Regions from separate parts of the Homo sapiens genome. Here region 1 is linked to region 2. The links come from fine-mapping of genetic effects on gene expression. A gene starts in region 2. The other region holds a variant in brackets. All regions are shown on one strand. Distances are from middle to middle.

Evidence for each region. PIP is the estimated chance that this variant, and not a neighbour inherited with it, causes the effect.
Region 1: its variant is the best candidate, but not a certain one, in a credible set for the expression of PLEKHG6 in esophagus mucosa (GTEx, PIP 0.62).

The regions. Positions count from the first base shown.
Region 1 is chr12:6,063,237-6,068,236 of GRCh38, forward strand. It overlaps VWF (von Willebrand factor), which reads right to left. Exons shown (of 52, transcript NM_000552.5): 11 at 1,901-2,037; 12 at 1,010-1,148. Among named protein-coding and RNA genes, the nearest start is that of SNORA120, 26 kb to the left of the region's middle. The variant T/A (reference allele first, on the strand shown) is at 2,021.
Region 2 is chr12:6,307,624-6,313,138 of GRCh38, forward strand. PLEKHG6 (pleckstrin homology and RhoGEF domain containing G6) reads left to right here and starts at 3,059. Exons shown (of 16, transcript NM_001384598.1): 1 at 3,059-3,225; 2 at 4,536-4,741. The coding sequence starts at 4,604. RefSeq lists enhancers at 1,873-2,593, 5,215-5,515 and a silencer at 2,956-3,005.

The DNA of each region.
Region 1 (5,000 bases), 240 kb before region 2:
GGACAGAGCGCAAATAGGGTCCCCCAGGAAGAAGCCTCTGCACCCCCCGCTATGACCTGCCATTCCCCCTACTGCCACAGGAGGGAGGCAGAGGCTCCTGCATCCTGGGCTGTAGGCAGGTGCCCTGGAGCAGAGGGGGATCTCTTTAGCATTGACACCACGACATCTGAATGTGCCTGGGACACTCTGCCACTGCACACCACCTCATGTCTGAGCGATGCTGTGTACGACACTGAATACAGCAATTGTTGCTTCTGTGGGAAGGTGGCGACAGATAGGAGCACACCCCTTGCCCTGGGGGAACAAACATATCTTATAAGGAGACACACAGCATAACACCCATGGACGTGCTGGGTACCCACTAGCCCAAGTTCATCCGCTGTGTGCAATGCTAGGATAATGGGCGACAAAGTGGCCAGCAGTTGTGGAGAAGAAGGAAGAGTCTGAGAGCCACTTTGAGTGTGAAGTTTGGGAGCTTTACCATGCAAAAGCAGGTTTGCTTTGACCGGCACAGTGCAACCCAGGTGAAGATACTGGACAGGTAGGTTTTTTGCTACCTCTAGACAGGCCAGAGGGTCACCTGGCCTCGCCCCAAGTGGCATCCTCTGGTGTGACATCACCAGCCACCCCCGATCTCTCAGCATCAGCCTCTGCCCCTGTCCCACCCCAGAGCAAACCAGAACCACCTGCCCAAGACTCAACTCGCCCCTTTGGTTCAAGCCAAATAAAAATCCTCTCGGTTCCCTTTTCCCATCTACACTCTGTCCCAGGTCTAGAGCAACCTCTTCATCTATAGGCTTCCTTCTCTAGTCTTCCTCCTCCAGGAAGCCTTCCTTTCTTGGAGGGATGCATGCCAAGCACCCCACCCTGCCCTCCAAAAATAACTCTCCATCACATTCCCATGGAAGAGGCATGCAGGTCCTTAAGGACAGTGGCCAGGGTTGAGAAGGAGGGTGCTAAGGGATGGGCTGTGCCAGCCCCAGGCCTGATGGAGCAGGACGAAGCATACCTTTCAGGAGGGGGAGCTGGACGTCCTGGCCATCCATGGCAACTCCTGCCCCATGCTTCAGTTTCACAAGGCTGTTGTGCAGGCCAGGCAGCCGGACGGTGACGGAGCGGGTGCACACAGCGTCGCGGTCATCAGCACACTGCCAAGAGGGAACACAGGGTGACTTTGCTGCACCCCCTGCCTATCCAGCTCCCCAGCCCAGGACCCTCTTAATCAGAGAAAGGCCTCAACCCGAGAGCCTCTGGCCTTCTCATAACCTACAACTCCATTCTCCCAGAATACTCCATGTGAATGGGGCCCCCTAGAGTTGTGCAGCAAGAAGGCTTGCTAAGTGCATCCTTGCACACGCCTTCTCCCAGCCTGGCCCAGTCTCTTATAAAGAACCATGGGCCTCTGCTTCATCGTGTTCCTTGGACCTACTGTTCCAAAGAGAATCAAAGACTTTGATCCTCAAGGAAAGCCCTGTGCATTCTCTTCGTCCTCATCTTTGCTTCCATCCCTACAGAAAGGAAGCCACACATGTACCACAGAGTTCAGAAGAGAAGACCAGCCCTCTTTGCCCCCACCCCAGCCATCCCCAGCTCCAAACATCAGAGGGTTAGTTATGGGGGCAACAGGCTAGACCCAAGCAGGATGCGTCCACTGGGTGGGGAGCTGAGCCAGCCCTGAGGAGGCATTATTGTCAGGGCAGGATGCCTTCCGCCAGCATCTAGGGAGAGAGGGGATGGGCTGGGTTTCTGGATGAATGAGGAGCTAACTGAAGTCTGGAAGAGACCTCCCTCATGCACAGAAAGCAATGCCCCACGCCTTCCAGGGACTGCCCATTCAGCCTAGCAGCTATGCAGCACCTTGGGCTACCACCCGACCAGCAGCCGGGCTGGCAAAGCTCACCTGGACAGTCTCAATGACAATGGAGAAGGAGTGGTCCTGGCAATCCCGGGCCAGCAGGTACTGGCAGATCCCACTGAAGGTGAAGTATCTGTTGTCAAAGCTCTTGAAGTGTGATTGACC[T/A]GTGACAAGGCACTCCCCTGGAGAGACACAGAGGAAGGGAGAAGAATGGGAGGTGAGGGCACTTCCCCTGGGGTGGCCAAGGTGGAATGCATATGCAAGCAGGGTGCCCTTCCCCAAAACTGCATGGACGTCCTTTGCCCAAACCAGTCTAAAAACAAGTTCTACGAGAAAATTCGGTTCCTGCTCCTAAAACTGCAAGATGTCAGAGCTGGGTCATTCAGGTCAAGGCCTCATTTTACAGATGGGGCAACTAAGGAAGGTGACAGAGCCACACTCAGTCAGTGGTGGAACCACGCAGGAACCCACGCTCCTGCTTCCAGGCTCCCTGCAGCCTCCCCTCCTCCCTCACAGCTCACTGCCATGTCCCACGCTACCTGCTGGCATCAGGGCCACACCAGCCTCAGACTGGTGCCAGCGGAATGCCTGGCCAGGGGGAGGCTGCCCAATAGCACAGGGTTCTCTGAACCTGAGTGTGGAGAGGCTCTGGGAAACAGTGTCACCCCTGGAGAGTCCCTGGAGGCCAGGGGGCAGAGTAGGCAGCCCAGAGGCAGGATGAGGTGGGAGGGTGAGGCAGGACAGTCTTGGAGCTCAGCAGTGAAAATGGGGACTCCATCCTCCTCACCAGCAGAGGGGCAACTCTAAGGCCATTGCTTTCTGCGTCCTCAGAGGGGCAAGCCCACGCTGTGACTCCAGCCAGGGCCAATGGGGAACCAGGAGGCCATCTGCCCATGATCTCACCACCACCCAGGCAGTGCTGACCTCGGCAGCGCCAGCTTCCCAGCCCAGGCTGACACATCTGTGGGTGGGGACTAGGACTCCCCTTCATCACCCTGCAACCCAAAGCCCTCAGCTTGTCCCCACCCTAATTCCCACACCATCTCCCCCACGCCCCAGCCTAGGCCCCATACTTGTGGCCCAATGCACCTCCAAACTGAGATCACACATCCTGGAAGGTGTCCTGGCAGGGGGAGGCCTCTGCCAATGTCTCCAGTGATTCTCCATCAACCTGCCTGGCTTGAGGCAATCCCATCTTCAGGGCCAAACATGGACCCATCAAAGCTGAAAAGGGCATCTGGATCCCTTCCCAACCTGCCCTATATATTTCCTCCACCTGCTCTCATCTTTGCTATCTACTCTACAGAAAAAGAAATATATATAGAGAGAGACACCATTGCCATTTGGTGAAGGAGGAAGACTTTTCCCACCCAGTCACTCTACGGTGCATGTGTGAGTTCCTTTCTCTAAGGATCAAAGCAAAGATGAGGACACATAGAGTGCACAGGGCTTCCCCTGAGACCCTCCAAACAGCGGAAGCTTGGCTGTCTACAGCGCTACCTCAGCCTCCACCTGAAGTTCCCCCTTTGGGGAACAGATGCTAGACCAACGTTGGAAAGACAAATGTAAGAGGGTCCTACAGACCATCCTATGTGGGCCCAGCTCCAGGGGCTAATGCTAGCCCTGTCACACAGCCAAGGGGTCCCCAAAAGGCACAGAGAGATTCTAGCTTGTCAAGGACAAGCTCCACAGGCCCTCACTGTCTGGCACTTCATGCTCGCATGTGCCCTGACAGGCCCAGCCAGGGGCCAGGCTAGACTGTGCAGTACTGGACCCAGGTGTGGGCCTGCCTTTGAGATGTGTATGAAGGCAGGATTAAGGATGAGGTGCCTCAGGGATGTACACATCCCTCTGCCTGGTCCCCAGGACAGTGGATCCCTTCCAGGACAGCATGGGTCAGGAGGGCACATCCAGCCCAGAGGAAATTAGGAGAAAGTGGAAAGGCCCCAGATCACTCCCATCAGCATGGCCCACCTTCTCCGCTGCCCCCTCTAGAAGAGCGGGAGTGAGGAGTGACTGTTCGTGGAGGACAGAGCAGGCCACAAGATAGGGGCCAGGATCGTCCCAGCCCATTCTGGATGTGCTGTAATTTCAAGTCCAGTGAGGTCTCAGGAAAGCCTTTTTGAACTGACCATTTTTCAGAAATTATCATCATTCTACAAACACAGTAATATGGTCATTTGTGTCAAATGTCTTGACCCCAGGGCAGTAAAAATGGGTGGGAATTCTTCCCCCTGCCTTTCTGTGTTTTCTCAGAGCACTCTTATCTAAGCAAGAAAATGGACTTCTGTCTTCTTTAACAATACCCAGGAAAAGAAGGGTCAACGAGAAATGTGCAAATATTCGAAAGGAAAACTTTCAGGGCCAGCATCTAATCGTCTCATCTGATTTCCTTCTCTGACCTTCACTGACTTGTGTTCCCAAGTTTCTCGCAAATCAGAAGTCTAAATATTATATGAGCTTATCTCCTCGGTACAACTGAGCAACAGAGCCACAAACACAGGAAAATGGGTGGGTGAGCTGCCAGGTAGCCGTTAGCCACGGGAGCTAGAACGTCAGCCAGAACTATGGGCCATGCGAACACGCTCACCCATCCTCCACCCAGGATGGGACACTAGGATATTCCCCATCAGTCAGCAACAGGCAGCTCCTGACGAACAGCGGGCCCACCACTAGATGGAGATGGGCACTGGAAGTTTGGGGAATGAATGAAAGGCAGGTGATTCCTAAAACTGCATTTAAAAAAAAAAGAGCATCCAGGCCGGGCCGTCATGGCTCATGCCTATAATCCCAGCACTTTGGGAGGCTGAGACAGGCGGAGCACCCAAGGTCAGGAGTTCGAGACCAGCCTGGCCAACATGGTGAAACCCCGTCTCTACTAAAAATACAAAAAATTAGCCGGGTGTGGTGGCAGGTGCCTGTAATCCCAGCTACTCGGGAGGCTGAGGCAGGAGAATTGCTTGAACCCAGGAGGCAGAGGTTGCAGTGAGCTGAGATCACGCCACTGCACCCCAGCCTGGGCGACTGAGTGAAACTCTGTCTCAAAAAAAAAAAAAAAAAAAAATCCAGAAGTTAAAGCAGATCCATTTCTATGTGAATAAAGATCCTGCCTCATGAAAAAAAACAAAACGGAACCTCTCACCTA
Region 2 (5,515 bases):
ACCAGTTCTGGCCTGAGGCACCAGAGGCTTTGCCCTGTGGCCTGTCCTCCTGGTATTCATCTGCCTCACATGACCTGGCGCCTCCTAGCTTGAACCCTCAGTTTCTGCCTCGCTCTGGGCAGGGAGGACACAGCTCCCATTAGCTGCCTCCTGTTGCTAGTGCCTGCCAGCCCCTCATTAGCCCAGATGGTCCCCACTTCTGCCCTGAGAGATATGGGCTCAGCAGAGGTCGAGGCACAAATGAGTTTCCCTGACCTTCCTGCCTGGTGAGCCCCTTATGCCAACCCCAGGCAGTTATCCTCAGGCTGCTATTGGACAGAAGCATTTGATCCTCAGAGCTCTGACCGTGGACACACACTTTACCATCAGTTATGGGGTCAATCCAGGGGCCTAATGAGGAGCATCTTACCTGGGAGAAAGTGAGGCATATGACTCAAGCTAGACATGTGAGGAAAGGCTAGGATAACCAGGAATAAAGAGAAGTATCCAGATGGCATACTCTGGTCCAAGGACCAGATGGCCCCTAGCCTCACTTGGCAGAGGCCAAGCCTCCAGCCTCCCAATTCTTTACATTTCATTCAGCTCCCTGAGAATGCTCCCCTCAGCCTGCCATAGGAGTGTGCTCTCCGCAGCACAGAGGAGTCATGGAAGTGGAGACTGTGAGAGTGACAGAAGAGAAGAAACAGAACATGGAGGCCTGCCTCCTAGGCCACACACCTGTGCCCGGCCACACCTCTGGCTTCTAGACTCCAGCTTGCCCTGGGAACCTCTCCTCCCAGGGAGGCTGAAGACAGGCCCTGGGGCAGTAGTGGGTGGAGACTGGACCTCAACGCCTAGAGGGAAGTGAAAGGGTTAACCACCCCGCCACCCACCACCACCTGCCACTGGGCCCCTCTAGCCAGCTCACCCCAGAGCACTGTAAGCCCAGGCTTGTCTTTGGTGCTCTCTCAATTTCATCTTCCCTCTTATTCCTCCTTCCCACTCCTTCTGGGAGACACTGGGAGGAGAAGCTAGGGGCCATTGGCACCAGCTGTCTCTGGGGTGTCATTTAATACTGTCCGTAATCACCACCTCCTCTCCTGGCTTATTAACTCTTTCCCTCATGGCTACTCTTGTCATCCCTGGACATCTCTCTATCTCTGTCTAGCTCTCACCACACACACACACACACACACACACACACACACACACACACACACACACACACACAGTGAATGGGAAGAGGGAAGGGCTAGGAACTAGGCACACTCTGGTTTCTTGCCACTGCAGTTCCTTTCCCACCTGACTTCACCCCCGAAAACTAGTCCCACCACCAGCTGGGCCAGGAGCAGGAGACAGGCTGGTTCAAGGAGCTGGAGGAACAGAGGACACTTCTGAACCAGCAGAGCAATCACACAACAGCAAGCTCAGAGAAAGAGAATCCCAGAGGGCAGATTTGAGGATGGACACAGGGAATACAAAATTAGAAACTGCCCAAAGATATAGATTCCTCCTCCAAACAAAATAGAGTCACCAGAGTCCGAGTGAGGACTAGAACACTCTGATCATGTATGCGTTTCATAGCCTAGATGGGAAAAGGGAATAGAGGCCTTTTCCCCTGGCAACTCAAGGAGATTCTGCTTCTGAAAGTGTTTCCTGAACTTCAGGATGCTCTGAAGAAGTAAGGAGCCGTATCAATCACTGTTGAGTTCATTGGCAGGAAATAGACCACAGTCAGGGTGAGGGGCTGGGAGCCTCAGACCTGCCACCTGCCAACTACAGGGTCTTGGGTTTCATGGTTGTGAGATTATAATGACCACACATCCACAGGACACTTCTATCTCAAATATCCAGTGCTTCTGTCAGACGAGGTGCCATGATTTGGAGAAGTGAAAAGGTGGGGAAACCGAAGCAGGAGGATCGCTTGAACCCAGGAGTTGGAGTCCATCCTGGGCCACACAGCAAGATATTGTCTCTATTTTCTTTTTAAAAAATAAATTTTAAAAATAAAGAAAATAAAGTATGGTCCTTTCATGCAATGCCCAGCATGTGTCAGTCCTTCCACAGCATCTTTTTCTTTTTCTTTCTTTTTTTTTTTTTTTTTTTTTGAGATGGAGTTTCACTCTGTTGCCCAGGCTGGAGTGCAGTAGTGCTGTCTTGGCTCACTGCAACCTCCACCTCCCAGGTTCAAGCGATTCTCCCGCCTCAGCCTCCCAAGTAGCTGGGACTACAGGCGCCCGTCACCATGCCCAGCTAATTTTTGTATTTTTAGTAGAGTCGGGGTTTCACCATATTGGCCAGGCTGGTCTCCATCTCCCGACCTTGTGATCCGCCCGCCTCGGCCTCCCAAAGTGTTGGGATTACAGGCGTGAGCCATCGCGCCTGGCCCCACAGCATCTATTTTAGCAGCCACCGCAAGGGCTGGGTGACCCTGGTGTAGCCGGGAGTGGGCTTATTTGCAGGTGAACTGGGAGGGTGCCCCCACCTGAGTCTTAGGTCATAGGAGAAGTGCGGGTCAGGCCTCAGCTGCCTATCCCTGGAGCAAAGGCAAAGTCCAGGATAGCCTTCCAGTATCACCTTCCACCAGGCAGGCCAGCCGGTCCTCTGAGAGATAAGGCTCACACTTTGGACTCCACACAGCGACGGGGCCCCCTGCCCCTCCAGCTGGCAGGCGGGCTCCCTGCCTGCTTAGGGGTCTAGGCCGAGGCAGGGGGAGGACCGGACGGCCGGCCACTCGCCGCGACCAGCAGGAGAGAGGGGTGCCTGCCACAGGTTGTCACCCTCGCCGCCTCCCCCGGCGGCGCCCCGCCCCTTACTCAGCCCTCATTACTGCAGCGCCTCGCGGGGGTCTGGCCCGGAGTGGAGGGCGCGCGGTCCCAGCCCTCCCGCTCGGCCGGCGGGTGTCGAGTTCAGGTGCGACCGAAAAGGGGAAAGGAGGGCACCGCCACGTGAGCTGTCCTCTCCGGGGAAGGCGGTGGCTGCGTGAGGGCGGGGGCTGCTCGGTCCCCAGGGCCCCGCCCCTCTGCCCCTCTGCCCCGAGCGGTGCTGGCGGTAGGGAGGGGCCAGCCCGGTCCCCGCCCTCCTCGCCCGGACCCGCGCTGCCCGGCTCCCGCGGGCCGCTCGATCCCAGTCCCAGGCTGGGCATCGGGGCTGGCTGGCATCGCCGGGGAGCCGACGGCGACGGGGAGCCCCGCGGGCGGGGAGGGCGGCGCAGGGCAGCGGGTGCGGTGACACCTGTGGGCACAGGTGAGCGGCGGGAGGGCTACGCGGCCCGGGGGCGGGGCGGCCGGGACCCGGGGCCTGGAAGCCGGGGCGAAGGGGAAGGAAGGCCTGGCCTCCCGAAGGCGGGAGGAGGGGAGCCGGGGGCTGGGCTGAGACAGGACCCTGGGTAGGGAGCAGTGCGAGGGAGACAGCGCCCTCAGAGGGAGGACTATTGGGAGGCGGCAGGAGGGACAGCGAACGTTTCCTCCTCTGCTCCTGAATCGGAGGAAGGTAAGGGAGGGCTGAGGCAGGACCTCAGGCCCACCCGGTCGGGGCACAAACACCTGCGCAGCCTTCTTGAGCCCACCGCCCCTTAGGAGGCCTCTCCTCTTCCAGGCCCTGCCCACTCGAGGGCGGGCCCTCCCTCCAGGTTTAGGGGGGAGGGATGGAGCCCCACGCCTGGCCCCCAGCTCCATGGTGGTATTCCCAGAGTCTGGGGAGGACCAAATATATAGCCCGAAACTGGAGAAACTCTAATTCTATTTGGCTGGTCTCTAAGGGCAGTGGCCGGACAGCTGGCCCCACTCACCTCCCTGTCTGTGGTCAGGAGGGTTCAGGTAGGAGATGGGCAAGCCTTTCAGTAAAGGCCAGACAGTAAAGATTAGAGACTTCGCGGCCTACACCGTCTGTCCCAACTAGCAAGAAGCAGTCACAGGTTATTAGGAGACCAGCAGAAGAGGATGGATTCCAACAAAACTGTGTTTATGGACACTGAATTTGAATATCATGTAATATTTACTTGTCCCAAAATATTGGTGGCTTTTTTGCAGGGGGGGCAGCAGTTGTTTCAACTATGTAAATATGTAAAGGCTTACAGGCTGTACAAAAACTGGTGGCAGACTGGGCTGTCTCCAGCCACCCCCACTCCCAGCCCACCCCACCCACCATGGCCTCCCTCCAGCTTTTTCCCAAGCTTTATATGGGGAAGGGGATGGGGTTATATCTAGGTGCAAGGAGAACCCTCCCACCTGGGTGTATCCAGAAAGCCCGAGACCTGTCTGTGACCCTTGTTCCCATTTGAGACCAGTGCAGGAGCTTGTACCCCAAATATGCACACATGTGAGAGAGGAGGTACATCTCCAAGGGGCTTCCTACCCAATATGTACCTGGACCTACCCTACTCCCACCAAGTCATAGATGAGGCAGCCATGTTCCCCCCAACAAGTGACCAAGCCCTTGGCCCTCTCCTCCCCCACTATACCCTCCCTCCCAGGCCCCCTACCAGCCTTGGTCTCCCGCCTGGTGCCATTCACTGATTGGGGATGGCCCTTCCATTCCTCTTTTCTCTCTTGCAGCCCTAGGGGACCTCTTTCTCCTGGACATTGAAGATATGGCCCTTTGGAGGTGACCCAGGAGAGAAGGGATGAAGGCCTTTGGTCCTCCACATGAGGGCCCCCTCCAAGGACTCGTGGCCTCCCGCATTGAGACTTATGGGGGCCGGCATCGAGCCTCTGCTCAGAGCACTGCTGGCAGACTCTATCCCCGAGGATACCCTGTGCTGGTGAGTCCAGGCTGTGCCCCAAAAGTGACCTGGTGGGGCAGGAGGGAAGACACCTAGGCTGTGGAGTCTCTGTCCCCTTACAGGTTCAGAGGTTGAGCTATTCCTGCCCCTTACCCTACTCTTCTTTCCTGGGTTGCGGGAAAGAGGAGGGCAGTGACAGGGCCAGGCTCCAGGGATATCACACCCCAGTCCCAGCAGCTGGGCAGGAGAGGCGGAGCCAGGAGAAGCCAGGCCCTCCGAGGAGTGCTGTTAGACAGGTCTCAGACAAAGAGCTGCGGGTAAGGTCATCAAACCCCAGAGCTGGCGCCTCCCAGGCTCCCGCCTCTGCTTGGCAGGAGTTTGAGGCCTTCCTGAGATCTGCCTCTCCCTGAGTCAGGATGAAGATGAGCAAAGGTTCAGGGTGTCCCTACTCCTCCAGTGGTGGGTAGGGACAGGAGGGTGCCTGCCTTGGCTCCACCCCTGGCTCCACCTGCCTGGCTCTCCTCCAGTCCTAACCAAGCAGAGGGGTGTGGAAGCCAGGTCTGTCCCTCAGCCTGCAGGTTTCCCCTCCACCTTGAGGACAGTTCTGCTTGTGGCTGGGACATCCCCTGCCTCAATGCACGATAATTTTGCCTTTGGAGATGGGACTTTCCTAGGCTGTGGGTGAGAAGGGAGACTAGAAAGTATGTGGGGTAATTCAGGCCACAGGCAAATGAAGGAATGTGACCAGGCCTGCCCTGGGAGGAGCTGTGTGGCTGTGGCTTCAGCCTTTCACACAGAAGGGCAGCCACTCCC